Linked DNA regions of Homo sapiens: region 2 is linked to region 1. Evidence: fine-mapped expression QTL. Tissue or cell type: whole blood. Region 1 holds a variant in brackets; the other region holds the start of a gene. All regions are shown on one strand. Distances are from middle to middle.

Region 1 (8,101 bases):
TCTGAGATGTTGGGAGAGGCTACTCCCACCCCCTGGTGACCCCAGAACTGTGGCAGAAAATACACAGCAGGACGAGTGTGGTCTCCCAGGAAGCTGTCCTGCCCGTCCCCTTTCGAGGAAACCTGAGTGTGGTAGAGAGGGGATCCTGCCATGTTGCTCCTCATCAGCCTGGCCAGAGGGCAGCTTTAGACCTTTTCAAATGAATCTGTTTTCTTTTCTTTCTTTTTTTTTTCTTTTTTTTTTTTTTTTGAGATGGAGTCTTACTCTGTCACCCAGGCTGGAGTGCAGTAGTGCGATCTCAGCTCACTGCAACCTCCGCCTCCCAGGTTCAAGCAATTCTCCTGCCTTGGCCTCTCAAGTAGCTGGGATTACAGGCATCTGCCACCATGCCCGGCAAATTTTTGTGTTTTTAGTAGAGACAGGGTTTTGCCATGTTGGCCAGGCTGGTCTCGAACTCCTGATCTCAGGTGATTCACCCGCCTCAGCCTTCCAAAGTGCTGGGATTATAGGTGTGAGCCACCGTGCCCGGCCTGGATCTGTTTTCTTAGCACGCAGTGAGGAATCTTTGTACTTAAGGCCAGGGCAACAAAGTCAAGAGGTCAAGGTGTAGGGCCATGAGGCCTGGACCTATGCTGCAGGCAAGGGTTTCCATCCCCGCTGCCCTAGGCACTCTCTTCCCAAGGCCAGGTTGGGCACCTGGGGAGGTCAGTTCAGAAATATCTAGCAGAGACCTCTTAAACCCCCATCCCAGCACCCCATCCTGTTGTTCCCAGAGCTGGTCTCCCATGAGTGTGCTAGAGCCAGATAGCCGTGGCCCCCCACCCATCTCACTCACACACACAGGCATCCATACACCCCAGAAGACTTCCCAAATGAGGCCAGACTCAGGGTCACGGGGAATGTGCTTCTGCCCCTGTAAGGGCTTTGGGGAAGGGGGCAACATAGTAGAGGCTGGAAAGAGCCCCCAAACCTGTACCCATGCCCCTCCAGCCCTGCGTTTCCATTCTGCCTTCTCAGAGTGCCCTTGCTGCACCCAGACCACCGGCCAGGAGAGACCTTCTCTCCCACTCCAGCCCCTCTCACTGCCCTTCAACTAGAGCTTTCACCTTTTTACATTTCCCTTCTGAAGGACACAAATCTGCTTTTCTGCCCATACACTGGCCCAAGGGCTCACCTAACTTGGGAGGGAAGGGGCTGTTGGTACAAGGATGATTTTCTGTTAGACTGCCATTTTGCACGGTCTCCCCCTTCCCATCTGATGTGTCCTGCCCCTCAGCTCTTTGCCTTATCTGTGTCACTGTCACTTTAGCAAAAATACAGCGGCCATTTGTATCAGCCTCTGGTGGTTGCTTGTGAGGTGGGACTCTTGCGGGAACAGGTGGACTTTGGGAGGAGTGGGCAGGGAGGGAGTGGTAGTGGCAGTTCTCGAGCTATCTGATTAAGCCATTCCGCTAGTTCAGTTGTGCCCTGGAGGGCAGGGGACAGAGTCAGTATCTCTGGGGCTGCAGGCCCTCTTGCCTTGGCCCTCCTGGCATGGGGTAACCACCAGCTCAGCTCTCCTCCTCCAGCTTTCCTCTCTCTAGCACACCCCAGCCAGGGCAAGGATGCCCACGGGCATAGCTACAGCAACCCCTGCGGGATTTGGTGTCCACACCCGAGAGGCCAGGCCAGATGGGAAAGGGATTAGCGCCTCTTCCCTCACACTCTGCCAGGCTGCCAGGAGCTTGGGCCAGGTCTAAGGTAATGAGGTGCTCCTCTTCCTGCTGGAAAAACCGGACAGACTCAGAACCACAAAGGCAGGTGCTGCCAGCCTGGCGCCTTCCTCTCTGCTTAGGCTGGGTGAGCTTGTCCAGGCCTGTGCCTCACCCCTTCTCTCTTCTAGGCTCAGTGTATGCTTAATCAGGCATGGTGCATCAGAGCGGGAAGGAGCCATCAACAGTGTATACTTCTGGAGCCTTCTACTGATAAACAGAGGCCCCAGAAGACGATTTGACTTACCTGAGCTCCCAGCTGGGACTTAAACCCAGGTGTGTCTGAGTCACAACTCTTCGGGGATGCCGTGGTGAGCTGGGGCTGAGCTCCTGTATTCCCACTCCCCCACCCCACCCCCACTCCTGCCATATCAGGGCTGGTCTCTGTGGACTCAGCCCAGGGCTGCCTCCTCTTTGTCACCCCAAAGTGGGGCAGCCAGGGACAGCCAGGGTGTGTTCAGAATGGGTTCTTCCTGCAGGGCAGGAAGGGCAGATTGTTAAAGGGGCTGCGGCCCAGACCACCCTGGTCCCTCCTCCGGCAGTGACTCAGACCCACACTGTGCCGTGCAGCTGTGTGCCCTGCACACCCGCTTGACGGCGCACTGCTCACTTCTGGGGGGCCCTTTCAGAGGCACTTTTAAAGCAAATAAAACATTTATTGTTCAGATTTTTTTCCATTTTCTTCCTTTTTACAAAAACATGCATACATACACAGGGTATGGTGGGTCCTAGGAAAGACACACACACACGCCTCACTCACACACACGCTCACACACACGCCTCACTCACACACATGCTCACACACATTTTCCTTCTTGACCCCAGGCCTGGACCCCCAAAAGCCTTGAAGACTTTGCCAGAGCAGCCTCCCCTCCTCCATGTCTGTATCTTCTCTCCCACCCCTTCCCCCTCAGTCAGGCTACTCCTATGTGGGGTGGGAATCAGAGCTATGGTGGGGGAGGCCCCAGAAACAGAGAAGGCTCCCCGAGTGGGCAGTGGCCGAGGGGTCCCAGGGGTATGCTGCGCTTCTTGGGGAGATGAAGGGTTTGGCACCATTGGATCAGGAAGCACAGGACTCCCAGAGCACCCATCTGCTCCACCAGGGCATCGCCAGGAGGTTGATGTAGGGGGGCCTCTGGCGAGGGTACGGACCAGATGGAGGGCTGCCAGTCTCGGCTGTCAGGGAGCTTCGTCTCAGTGCCCAGTGGTAGAGGGAAGCTTCCAGAGTCGTCTGAGGAAGCAGGTGAGAGGGACTACCCCTGCACTCAGGAATATGGGACCTCTTGGCTCCCCACTCCCCCCTAGCCCCTAGAGCCTAGGAAGGGCCAGCCTGTCTGAGGCCAAGTTCACATTTCTGTGTGGAGCCTGAGGCTGTGTGCAAAGTCTGGGGTTTGCAGAGCCAGGAATAGTGGTTAAGGGTGAGCCCGACGGAGCCGGAGCCAGTCCTCCTCTGTGCAGTCCTGAGGAATGGGGGCCACAGCCAGGGCCCATACTGGAGGGGAGAATCTGTTCTCGAGAGCCCTGTGGGGGTCGCCGCCCAGCCCGTCTCCTCTCAGGGTCCTCTCCAGTTCCCATTCTAGACCCAGGGATTTTCTCACGCTCCCTGGGATAACTGTCAAAGCAGGCAGGCTGTTCTCTGGTTCCAACTACTTGCCCACAGGATCTCTAAAGACCCAGGAATGGGGGCTATTGCCAGGGGTTAGAAGAGAACCAGGTCCCAAGGGCATGGTGGGCGGGCAGATGGTTCCAGAGCCTTAGAGATTCATAGGTTCTTCCTCCTCCACCAGCTGCTCCGAGGGCCTGTGGGGAGGGACAAGGGTGGGATGCTGGAGCACCAGGGCTGCAGCAAGGGCCTTAGCTAAGCTTCCTCTCAACCCTGGTCAGGAAGCCTGGGAGGGTTGGGGTGGCTGCATAGCGGACCCGGGGTCTTCAAGCAGGGAGGAATGAAGCGGTGGAGAGGCTGTGGGCCCAGGGCCAGGGGTCTGGCATTACCTATCTTCAGCCAGGATGCCCACAGAGAGGGACGCCAGTGCGGTCACTGCCTCCACTTCTTCTTTGTCAGCCCCTGGCACTCTAGGCACCCAGGAGTCTGGACAGGAGGCCAGGCGCTGCATGCAGCCCCAGTATTTACCTGGGGTAAGATGCCAGGTCAGAAAGGGTTGGAGAAAGCAAGCCCCTCCACACTGCGTCCTAGACCGGATATTGAGGTTGGTGTCTCAGGCCCAGGGCCCCGGAGGAGCGGGCCTGTCCTCCACTTAGGGTCGGCTCTCCCACCTGCCCCTCTCCTCACTTCGCTCCCACTCCCGCACAGCCTGACAGGGTAC[A/G]CAGAGTGGGTTCAACATGGCTGTGAGGGAGTCCTAGCAGGTGCCCAGCCTTTCTCTCATCCCCTGTGGCTGCAAGGCCACCTTTGACTCATTCCCCACAGGTGCGGGGCTCCTGAGAGCATCAGGAGAGCCTGCTTGCCTGCAGACAGGGTCTGTGTCACAGTGACCTCCCAGAGCCCCAAGCTCGGGCCTCCCACTTAAACACAGCCCCCACCAGTGCTCAGCCCAGCACTCAGGAAAGGAGGGCCTGGGAGGTGGGACGAACACAACATGGGAGAACTGACCATCACCACGGCCGCTCTGCATGGGTGCCCAGGCCAGGAGAATGCTCCTCCTGCCTGCTGCTGTGAGGAACCATGTCCTGGAATCTGGCTCAGTGTGAGGGCACCCACCGTAAGAGGAATCAGCCATGTCTTTACCATTATGTAAAGACATCACGGCTCCCCTACCCAGCCCTTGATATGGGAATCTATTTTACTCATTTTTATCCCTAGTATAGATTATGGGTCTTGACATAAGATGCTCAATAGATGTTGAGTTGAAGTTGAAAATTTAAAGTACTTTACAAATGTGGGGGTTATCCCAAGACGCAGCCCCCAAGCCAGCAGAGCTCCTGAGACGCCTGTGGCCAGGACTGAGGGGAGGGATGGGAACCAGGCCTTTTGGCAAACAAGGCCTGAGTGTTGCTCTTGACCTGGCCCTGGTCTAGGGCTGTCGCTAGAGATGGAGGCCAGTCCCTACCTTGAGGGGCCACTGTCTGGTAGGCCCTGCTGGCTCCATCGGGGGGGCTCAGAGGATAACCCCTCACTGGGGGGTGCTCACCATTGCTGCCTGGGTCACTCACAGGAATCTTACTCCAGACCAACAGCAGGTCACCTGGCTGGCACCGGAAGCCCTAGGATCTGGCCACGGTGGGGCAGGGTACCACCAAGATCCTTCAGTCTGAGCTCAGCGAGTGTCCCATCTCCACACTTACTGTGCACCCGGATCACGGCCTCCAGAGAGCGGATGGCATTGAGGTTGGGTTTCTGTTTCCAGCCTTCTTCTGAAAGGGGATCCACCTATAGAAAACAGTACATCAGCCACCAGTCTCTCAGGGACCCACAGGCCCAGCTCACTCCCACCCCAGGGGCCCCAGCCTTCTAGCCACAAGCACACTCTACCTAGGCCAGGAGATGCTGCCTGGACCTAACTTGGAACAGAGGCTTCCGCTTCGCCTACCTTGTTTCAGGCTTGGCCACTCCCACCCTGTCCCATCCCATCTGCCTGCTCCTTGGGTAGTCCTGAGAGCCGGGCTTACCTGCCTGACAGAAGCATGGATGGGGGAGGGAGACGGCTCACCCTGTTACCCAGAAGAGCAGCCACACAGGCCTCAGAGGCGTCACAGATGGCTGTGAGGTCATGGCCACCCTCCAAGGCCAGCACCACTGCGCCTCCTGCCAGGTTCATCAGTTGCTGCGTCATGTATCCAAAACCTAGAGGTTGGGAGGGGAGAAATGGGAGGGGCGGGAGTGGAGAGGTGACCCTGTTCTCTACCCCTGTGGCTTCCCTGCTTGCTTCCTCCCTAATAAAGAATGACTCACATGTATCAATCACTATTTCCAAAGTGCTTTCACATTGAATGTCGTACAAAACCTACTAGTATGCTTCACTCAAGGCTCAGGGAGGTTAAGGGCCTTGGGAAAGGCCCCACAGCTAGTAAGTGGCAGCAAGGTAGGACCTGAACTTGGGTCATTGACTCTAGCCTGTGTCTTTTTCACTGAGCTACACCCTCTCTTCTTTCTGTACTCTGGGCCCTGTGGCCACCCTCTATTCTGAGAGTGCTGCTTCTCTCTCCCCTTCCTCTGGAGGAGCTGCCAGCCCACCTGGAATCAACCCAGCTGTGGTGGGGAGTCCCACGGCTGAGCTTCCTGCCTACTGGACTTAAGTCCCCATGGGTATGACCTGGTCAAGCCCTCCGTGGTGAACCGGCCTGGTCCTGAGAAAGGGCTTGGGCTGTGCTCGGCTAGGAGATCCCGGGGAATTTCAGGACCAGCTGCCATACTCCAGTCCTCAGGCTGAAAGCCCTGGGCTGGCCACTGCCACCTTCCCTTTCTGACTTGGGAGTGCCTCCCAACTCCCCGCACCGCCTGGCTCTCTGTCCCTAACGTCCCCCTCAGCTGAGGCTCCCTTACATTTGGCAGAAACATGGTAGCCACCCAGTGGGGCCGGGTGACCCTCAGCAGCATCAAATCCAGCAGACACCAGGACTAGGTCTGGAGAGAACTCTCGGGCGATGGGCATCACGACTATCCTGTGAGGTCACAAGAAGTGGCGATCATCGTACTGTGCAGGGTTGCCAGGGGCGGTCCTGCCAACTTTGCGGTGGGGCACCCTGTTCTTAGGACTCCAAGGCTCCCAGTGCCCCAGCACAACTGGCAGATTTCTCTGACCTCCTTGACCTTGGCTGGCCACCCATGTCCCTGGCACACACAGCCTAAGGACTCAGCCCCCTAGGGGACTTAACTAGCAAGAGGCAGAAAGGAGCCAAGGATGGAGCACCAGAGGGAATGAAAGAGGAGTGTGTGTGACCATGTGTGTGTGCATGTGTGTGTGTGCATGCAAGCATCTGTGGGGTGCAGTGGCCGGAGCCACAGGGAAAGGGTAATCTCACAGCCTTGCGGAGATGGACTCTGGTCACAAAGCTTCAGGGACTACAAGTGCTCAGTCCTTTGGACTGAGTTGACCACACCCAGCTACTCACTACTTGAGAGCTGAGTAGGGGACAACTAGGTCCTCTGAGGTTCTGCGCCACCTGGCTACATTCTCTCATCCTCTCCCTCTTCCAGGCCCCCCCCCAGCTGCCTTCCTCTACCCCTGATCCAACTCTGGGGCCTGCTTGGGTGTTCTTCATAGCCCTGGGCTCTGAGAAGACTCCAGGAACTCCAGCCCAGGGCTCTCGTAGAATTAGCTGTCATGGAGATAACTCCAGAAAAGTGTTTGAAGATCCATTTCCAGAATTCTCTTTTCCCAAATAGAGTGGCAGCCTTCTCTGACTAAATGTGCCAGCTCTGCTCACTCCACCACCCACCTGCCAGCAATCAGTTTGACATTGGCTCTCGGTAATGTATGCCTTTGCAAAGCACCCTTTGACTTTTGCATTCTTCTCTCTGTTTGTCCTATTCTCACTGGCGTTCACCTACAATGTCTAGGAACTGGTGGGGACAGGCTGACAATCCAACTGATCACCTCCCCCCTGGTGCTCTTGGGAGAAGGGACAGGAGAGGGTGGACTTGCCCCTCTGGGCCCCCAGAGCACGTACCTGAAAGCAGCCAGGTACTCAGGATCCCCCATGGGGGGGTCCAGACCTCCAGCCCAGGCCACATTGACATTGAAGCCCTCACCGCTGCCAGCCCCTACCTGGAAAACAGGAGGCAAGAGAGACATGAGGACAGCAGAGTCCCAGAAGGGGAACACCAGTTTGTTAGAGCTGCCAGCCCAGCTCATCCAGCCTCCCCATTTCCAGGTGGGGAAGTTTAGGATCAGAGAGGCTCAGCAGTCTGCCCAGGATCACACAGCTCGTCATGACAGAGGCAGAGTAAGTGTCAGGAGGAGGTCAATGAGGCTGGAAGATGTGGCCCTGACATGCGGTTACCTCATCCACAGCCCCACTCCCCGGGAAGAAGTTGCCGTCGTCATGGCGATGCAGGGAGATGTAGAGCACACTGGGGTCTTGGTAGAAGGTTTGCTGGGTGCCGTTGCCATGGTGCACGTCCTGTGTAGGGAGACGGGCAGCGATTAGGGAAGGCAGAGAGATGGGGGCCAGGACAGGTTAGAAGGGTTTCAAGGTCAGTGGCCATTCTGAGGTCAGGACCCTAGACTGGGATCAGGAACCTGGGGTTCCTAAAGCCACACGGTCGAGTGGCCCCACGTAATCCACTGCCCGGCTCTGAACCTCGGCCTCTCTGTGCTGGACAGGGCTGGCTGTAATATGAGATCCTGAAGGAGAGGAGGTGTCCCAATCTCAGGCCAGCCCACCTGAGAGAG
Region 2 (8,101 bases), 35 kb after region 1:
ACCCCAGAGGAAAGATCAGCCCCAATTAGCACCAGCCCAATCGGGTCCACGTCATCACAAAGTGTAGTTATGAGCACACATGCACACACACACACAGGGGGTACATGGGTGAGCACAAAGTCCTGGACAGGTCTTAGAAGCCTTGAGTTTTCTCTTGGTTCTTCCTCTTAATGGCCCTGTCACCTTAGAGAAACTACATACCTTCTGTGGGTCTATTTCCTCAAAAGAAAAAATGAAGAGGTTGACCCAGGGCAGTGGTCCTCAAACACAGCCTTGCCCCAGGATCACCTGAAGCACCTGTTAAAATCTGGATTCCCAGGCCCCACCCCTCAGATTCTGACTAGTCAATCTGGAATGGGCCTGATGATCTGAATGTTTTTAATTTTGAGACAGTCTCACTCTATTGCCCAGGCTGGAGTGAGGTGGCGCAATCTCGGCTCACTGCAACCTCCACCTCCTGGGCTCAAGCAATTCTTCTGCCTCAGCCTCCCAAATAGCTGGGACTACAGGCCTGCGCCACCATGCCTGGCTAAATTTGTATTTTTAGTAGAGATGGGGTTTTGCCCTGTTAGCCAGGCTCGTCTCGAACTCCTGCCTTCAAGTGATCTGCCTGTTTCAGCCTCCCAAAGCCACCGCGTCCAGCCAGGATTTTTTTTTTTTTTTTTTTTTACAGAGTCTTGCTGTCACCCAGGCTGGAGTGCAATGGCGTGATCTTGGCTCACCGCAACCTCTGCCTCCCGGGTTTAAGCAATTCTCCTGCCTCAGCCTCCCGAGTAGCTGGGATTACAGGCGCGCACGCCACACCTGGCTAATTTTTTGTATTTTTAGTAGAGACAGGGTTTCGCCGCATTGGCCAGGCTGGTCTTGAACTCCTGACCTCAGGTGATCCACCTGCCTCGGCCTCCCAAAGTGCTGGGATTACAGGCGTAAGTCACCGCGCCCGGCCCAGGATCTTTATCTTTAACACATTCCCCAGGTGACTCTGAAGCAAATGGTCCAGGAACCCGCATTTGAGAATCCCAAATGAGATGGTGTTTTACAAGCCAGCATCTGGACTTCTATTAAAAAGCCACTCCTGCCCAGATATATACCCCCAAAAAACATGTCCATACATATGGACATGTTTACCCCACACAGGGCCATAACCTGAAAAGGTGTGCACCATACAGATGATGCACATCTGTCTTTTATGTGTGCATATTCCCAAAACACCCAACACAGAACCACCACATAGATCACAAATTGCCCGGAACCACCACATCAGCATACACAGGGTCTGGGGGGAGGGGTACACACACAGATACCCACCACGCACCCAGTGTGTGCTCACACACATCTCATGCAGACCCACACTAAACAGACGCTGTCCTGAATTTATTTTGCCTCTGGGAACTGGTCCAGGACCAAAGGAGCTATGCTCTGCTGATGAAAACATCCCTCCCACCTCTGCCACCCCCACCCCTGCCCCTTGCCCCAGGCAGCATGCTACCCACCTCTCCCTTGTAGGAGGAGGGAGACTGGAGGAGGGCAGTGGGGATGGGTTGGGAGGAAACAAGAGGCTAGGCCAGCGACTCAAGTTGCTCAGGGCCCTTCCGGGCGTCCAGCTCCCCTCTTTCCCTCTCCCTTCCCCCCAGAAGACGCCAAAGGGCCTTCCCCCAGCCCGCGAGTCCATGCTCACTCAGGCCACTCGCCTAGATTCCCAGGCCCCTGATCCTAGGGAGCCAAAAGGGTTAGGGAGGTGGCTAGATCTGGGGACTCCTCCTAATACTCAGGCCTCTAAGGAAAGGGCTGTCTGGGGGCACCTTCCTGTAGCCCTAAGGCCTGGGGCCTCCAGGGAAGGTTACCACAGAAACAGGGGGAAAATATTACAAGGAAACACAATACCCGGCAGGGTCACCTGCTGACCGGGCTTCCTGCTGTGTTGCCCACCCCCAGCTCACTGCTCTCACAGCCTCCTTCTCCAGCCTTGGCCTGGGCCTCCTCACCAAGGCTCTCCTTCCTGCCTCCCCAGAGCTGGGAGAAGCAGTCTTAAGCAGAAACTCTGCCCCTCCGTGGTTCCAAACAACAACATCGAGGATGGCCCAGAGCTGAGCCCCCCACTCCTAATCCTTACCAACCCCTCCTCACCATCACCACAGGAAATCAAAGCTTCCTGCCCCAAAGGAAGTGCCCCATCTAGTGAACAAATCCAACACACACAAATGCACAGTCCTGGGAGCCTCCGGGAGGACAGATGCCCTCCCGCTAGCCCCAGACTTTATTCAGGCCCTGCTTCCAGCAATACCCCACACCCCACTGGAGGCCTCAGTCCGAAGTCTAACTGAGGGCAGGCCAGGGAGAGCCAAGCTGTGGAGGGTGGGCCAGCAGAATGGGCACTGGCAGAGTGAGAAGGCCTGGTTCTGGCCCCCTCCGCCTGCCATTCCCTGGCTGTGTGACCCTGGGCCTTGCATTAGCTCACCTTCTCTCAGGCCCCTGCCGACTTCAAAATTACCAGCCCTTAATGAAAGGCCAGGAGAAAGAAGGCAAAGAGGAGATGGGGTTCCACAGGCTTCTGTCTTCCAAGTCCTTGGGCATGCTTGCCCACAGCTACCAGAGGGTCCCCACTCCCTACCCCATCACACATGAGTTTCTCTCTTGCTCAAGGGTTTTATATCAGAATTGAGAAAGTTCCAGCTTCCATGCCAAGAGGCCACCAAGGACTAAAGCTGAGGTCCATTATCCCTAAGCAAACTGGAGGGGGTGGATAATAGCACAGTACCTTCATTCTCCTCTCCATAGTCAACCTCTTCTGCTCTGCTCTGAGAAGTGTGCTTGGAATTTTCTCCCCATTTTACTGATGGGGAAACTGAACTTCAGTGTCAAAGTGGAGTGAACAGCTTAGACATGCAAACTTCCCTGCCCCAAAACCCACTGTAAGACCCGGTGGCCACAGAGACACCCGCCGAATAAGGGACACAGAGGCCTCTGGAGAACACTGCACCAGGACCATTCCAGGTGCAACATCAGGAGGCAGCTCTGAGCTTGCCTCTGAGCCTGGCCCTGCTGGGCAAGGAGGGACATCAGGGGACTAAAGGCAGAGGACCAGTCCCAATAGGTCCAAGACCTGGTTCCAGTCTAGGTTCACTGGGCTGGGTACCACTCACTGGGACTACTCTGTGCCTTAGTTTCCCTCAGAAATGACTGCAGAGAAGAAGAAAATGACTTAATAACCCATGGGTAGCGGCAGCCTAGCAGCCTATGGAGTCCTGGGAGGGGGAAAGGGCCGCCAAAGCGTCTCATTGGAGGGCAGGGACCTGAGTCACAGTCTCCTGCCAGCCCTATAGCTGAATAGGGGTCCTGAGGAAGGTCCCACAGGTCCAGATGCAAGTCCAGGGAACAGGCTGAGAAGTTGATCTTGAGCTCCCAGCAGGGCCGCTGAGGGCCGATGCCCCATTCTCACCCTAGAAAGCGGCAGGCAGAGCTGGGCCTCAGGCAGATGTTGCCTAGGGGAGTGGGCAGGGAGCGTTGGCAGCGAGACAGCCAGTGTCCAGATGCAGGGGGAGGCCTTTGGGTGCGCAAGACAGCCAGCGGGGAGAAGGAGTGAGGAGCAGCCGTGGCTGGGGAGGTCAGACCCAAACGGGCAGCCACAGCGGGAAGCAATGGGGGTGGGGCACTGGGTGGCCTGCGGGCCCCAGAGGGCTCTCTCCTGGCCCACAGGCCTAGAAACTCTGGTCGTGGGAACCCAGCCCATCCGCCAAATTTGCCGCCTGCTCTCACACTCCCCAACACCAACAGACCCCAGGCCTGGGGGGTGCACATCCTGTCCCCCACCCCTCACACAGCCTGCGGCGCCCCGCTTCCCGCGCCGCTGCCGGCATTGACCTCCACAGCTCACCAGGGCACAGGTGTCTCTTCACCCTGATGGGTGAGCAAGGATGGGGGGCAATGCTCAGAGAAACCTCCCAGCCAGAGACCCCTCCAAGGGACCTCTTTCCCCGCCGAAGGATCTGAGTAGGGCCCTGCCCGGCTCCACGGGATGGGGGCGCTGATGTCCAGCCCCACAAAGCCCAGCCCCAACTCAGTGGGTCCTGCCCTTTGCCCTCGCGCTTCCAAACCTTCCGCCCCGGAGCACCGCCCCCTCGCCGGGCCACCGCGGCCGTCCCTCCCTCCCCGGTCCCTCGGCTCGTCCTCCCCGGGAACAGGGGTGATGGGACGTGGGGCCCGCACACCGGCGGCCGGGGCCTCCAACTCCCTCCCTTGGGCCTGTAGCTGCCCCGGGGCGGGCGGATGTGGGCGCCCCGCGGGAGGCCCGAGCCCTCCGGCCCCCGGAACCAGCTCCGACCCGGAGCCTGCCAGAGCCCCGCGGAGCCGGGCGGGACAGGCGCGGTCGGGGGGCGCAAGCCGGGCTGGGCCCGCGGGGCTGGCGGGAGCCCGAGCCGGAGCCGGAGCCGGAGCCGGGGCCAGGGCCGGAGGCCGAGCCTGGGCGGGCGACGCTGGGTGCCGCGCGCAGGGCGGGGCGGGGGGCGGCCGCCCAGTACTCACCAGCGCCGGGGCTGTGCATCCAGGGGCCGGGGCCCTCAGAGCGGGGGGCTCATGGCGGGGCGGGGGGCTGGGGCGCCGGCCTCACATCCCCCCAGTCGCCGGAGGCTGCAGAGCGACTGTGAGACGGCGAGAGGAAGGGAGGGGGCCGGGAGGGGGAGGGCCCTGGCAGCCCGGCCGGCCGGGTAGGATGACAATGGAAGGAAATGCTTTATCTGAGTCTGAGAGCGGGCCAAGGGGGAGGGGAGGGAGGGGGCAGGCGCTCGCGGCCCTGGGACACACCACCCCGGCAGACACTGCACCGCGCGGCGCACAGGCGGGCCGCAGACACCGCGCGCGGCCAGATCGCGGCGGGGCGCGGCGCACTGCCGGGGAGGCAGCGCCGAACCCGGAACGCCGGCCGCGGCTCCGAGCCCCAGCCGCCGCGAGGCGCTCCGAGCCGTGCACAATTCCCGGAAACCCAGCTACCTGGGCGCACGCACCCTCGCATACACAACGTACACGAGCACGCATCCATGTTTACAAGGGGCAGAATCATTTACACAGCACACACTGGGGCTTCGGGGTGGACCCCCGTGCACACACTACATACCCGTACAGCCCACAAGCACGCAGCCACACGCGGGCACAGTGGGACACGCGTGGTGTCCCATGTCCCATACAAGGAATCCCAGACGGACACCCCCCACCACACACACACACACATAAGCACGACTTGCCTCAGGAAAGTTCCAGGATCTGATTTGAATCACTGCCCAGCCCTCCCCCACTGGCACCCCCACACACACACCATGCCTGCTGAGGGGAACGGAAGGGTCCAGCCTGTTCCTATTAAAAGAAAAAGGGTGTGGGGGTGGTGCAGATTTTGAAAGTTTTCTTTTTTTAAAGAAATTTCTCAAGGGACTTCCTTCCCTCCTCTCCTCTTCCTCTCTTCCTCCCATTCCTCTCCCTCCACAACCCCCCTCTTTCCCCCTCCCGGTCCCTATGAGTCAAACTTCAGCAATGTGCCCAGTGTCCCCCAGTGCATTACAGCGGATCACAGAAATGTTCCAGTCTGTGAGTCGGAATGCAGCCGCCTCCAGCCCTCCCTCAGCTAATAAACTCAGCTCAGGGCCGGCTTTAGGCAGTGGCCCTCCCTGCCTCTCCCTCCGCTTTTAGCTGGAGAGAAGGTCAGATTCAGGGGTCAGGGGCTAAGGACCTCGCCATTGTGCTTCCTGGGCTAGCCGGTCAGCCGTGTCTGCCTCCAGCAATCTGGAGCTGCTCCTAGGAAGGGGAGAGGTCCACCACGCAGGAACACTGGGCTCTCTGCAGCGTGAGGCGCCACCATTGTAAACCAAGGAGCAGCTTCCCCTGACCCCATTCTATCTCCCGCAATCCTAAGAAACCCCAAGAATCCAGAGAAGGAAAAATTGAGGCAGCCCCAGAGGTGGAGTCATGTCTGATTGGAAGCAAGAGCCCACAGTGGCCTAGGAGGGCTTGGCCATGCTGGCGGTGAACTTCAAACCATAGATTCTATTCCCTTCCCTCAGGCACAGCTCGGGACTCACTATCTGTTGCTACCGGCATATTCAGCGTGGGACTTCTTACTTCAGCCCCTTTCCTTGTCCCAGTTCTCCTTCGGCAGGCAGATCCAACCCCTCTGCGCTTGTTAACTTACCCTCCCAAAAGCCTTTCCTGGCATTCAAGTCCTCCTACAACCTGGCACCACACTCCATACACATCCCTGCCCAGTGCCTCCTGGTACTTAGGGCTCAGTAGTGTTAGTCACTATTATTACTATCATTATTTCTGCCAGACTGGGCTGCTAGCTGCTTCCCATCCTGTCCTCACGCTTCCACACTCCCTTGCCTTCGCTCATCATGCTGCCTCCAAAAGAAATGTCCTCCCAGCCCCTTTCTCCTTCTGTTGAAATCTTTCCAATCCTCAAGACCCACTCCCTATCTAGTGGGAGGGAGGGAGGGAGGGAAGGAAGGAAGGAAGGAAGGAAGGACTGGAAGAAAAAGAAAGTGGCATACCACTTTCTCCGGGAGGCTTTCCCGGATTCCCATAGCCAAGAGGAATTCTTCCCTGAACTGTGTGGTCTTTATACATTGACCTTCGCCCACCTAGTCTACTTGTCTCAACTCTCTTCCTTCCAAGAGCATTCAAGAGTGGATATCCCTGAGTCCAGCTACTGCCTTGGTCATGGGTGCATTTCTTGTAGTGTCTTGCACAGAATTCAAACTTGATGTGAGTTATTTGTTGAATTGGGACAGATGTTCATGACTTTCAAGAACCCTTCTCCAGCTGGACACCTACAGTACATTCTTTCACCCCATAACTACCCATGCTGACTCTCCAAGACACATGCTGTTCCACCTTAGGTATGTCATCCCCAGCCCTCAATTCCAAGCCAGATCATCCTCCTTCCAAATGCCTCTTTGGTGTCCACAGACTCCAGAAAAACTGCTTGGTTACTGCAGACCCCCAGCGACATGCCTGCTATCTCCCTTGTCTAGCTCCACAATTGATCCCAACCCCCAACACACACATATCCGTAGCTTTTCTGTAGCTATTTCTGTAGTAAAGCCAGGCCCTTTTATGCTCATTTCTACCATGTGCATTGTGCATACATTTATTTGTGAGTCTTCTTTCTCTTTTTAAACTCATCACTGAGTTTTGAGTGATCTGAATTAAGAGGCTATCTCCCTGCCTGTCTGTCCACACAGTGCCCAACATGTGGCTTTCTACACACCAGGACTCACTGCCTCCAACATATAGTCAGAGAAAAAGACAGCATGTGCAACCTGCATCTGGGAAAGCTGGACTGTGTCTCTCCTTCCCCTGCCAGATTTACTTACCAGACCCCGCCTCATGGCAGAGTCCTAAGCCAGTTTCTAAGTCACATGTCCCCTACCAGGATAAATTAGAAAGCCTCCAAGAACCTTAGAGACATGAGACAGAGAAATGCAAGCTACCTCTCTCTCTTCTAGCCTGGTTACCGTGGGGAGCCTTTTTTTAAAAAGCTCTTGAGTCCAGGCCTCTCATAGCTTTCTCAGCTGAACACCTAGCAGAAGAGACTGGCCCCAAAAGACGTGCCTTGGCTTCCTGAGCCTTCCCTAGAGTCTCCGGCCAGCACAAAGCCTGAGGGCACCCCAATCTGCTTCCCTTTGGGACTCTGGGCCTACTTGACCTTCTCTTCTCCTTTTCCTCTCCTTCTTTCCTTAGTTAGCTACTGTTTACCATTTACTGCGTAGCAGTCCTTGCTATCCCCTGGACAAACATTAGATCATTTATTCTTAACAATAATCCTTGTTATGCTCATGAGTAAAGCATGGCCTTTATGGTTAAGAAACCTGATCAAAGTTGCACAACTAGTAAGTGACAGGGCCATTCATTCATTCAACAAATATTATTGGGTGCCTACTTTGTGCCAGGATTTAAAGCCCCAGAAAATTATCCAAACTTTCTGATACCCTCCGTTCCCAACCTTCTAGATGTGGGGGCCATAGCCACAATTCCTCCGCCAGCCTGCACTTATCCTCACACACTTCGCACAAAGCCAACCAGAAAGTGCTCCTTCCCCAAGGCCTCAGTTCAGTGA

Evidence for each region. PIP is the estimated chance that this variant, and not a neighbour inherited with it, causes the effect.
Region 2: HDAC7 starts here. The variant in region 1 is fine-mapped to the expression of HDAC7 in whole blood (INTERVAL, PIP 0.94).

Annotation. Positions count from the first base shown.
Region 1 is chr12:47,780,336-47,788,436 of GRCh38, forward strand. It overlaps SLC48A1 (solute carrier family 48 member 1), which reads left to right. Exons shown (of 3, transcript NM_017842.3): 3 at 1-2,416. HDAC7 (histone deacetylase 7) reads right to left here. Exons shown (of 26, transcript NM_015401.5): 20 at 7,710-7,829; 21 at 7,377-7,474; 22 at 6,250-6,368; 23 at 5,417-5,550; 24 at 5,052-5,136; 25 at 3,744-3,882; 26 at 2,387-3,551. The coding sequence ends at 3,506. Among named protein-coding and RNA genes, the nearest start is that of SLC48A1, 11 kb to the left of the region's middle. The variant A/G (reference allele first, on the strand shown) is at 4,076.
Region 2 is chr12:47,815,246-47,823,346 of GRCh38, forward strand. It overlaps HDAC7 (histone deacetylase 7), which reads right to left and starts at 4,658. Exons shown (of 26, transcript NM_015401.5): 1 at 4,522-4,658. The coding sequence starts at 4,540. RefSeq lists enhancers at 1,853-1,962, 2,209-2,869, 3,587-4,160, 5,499-6,420 and silencers at 4,069-4,378, 4,389-4,468, 4,609-4,948.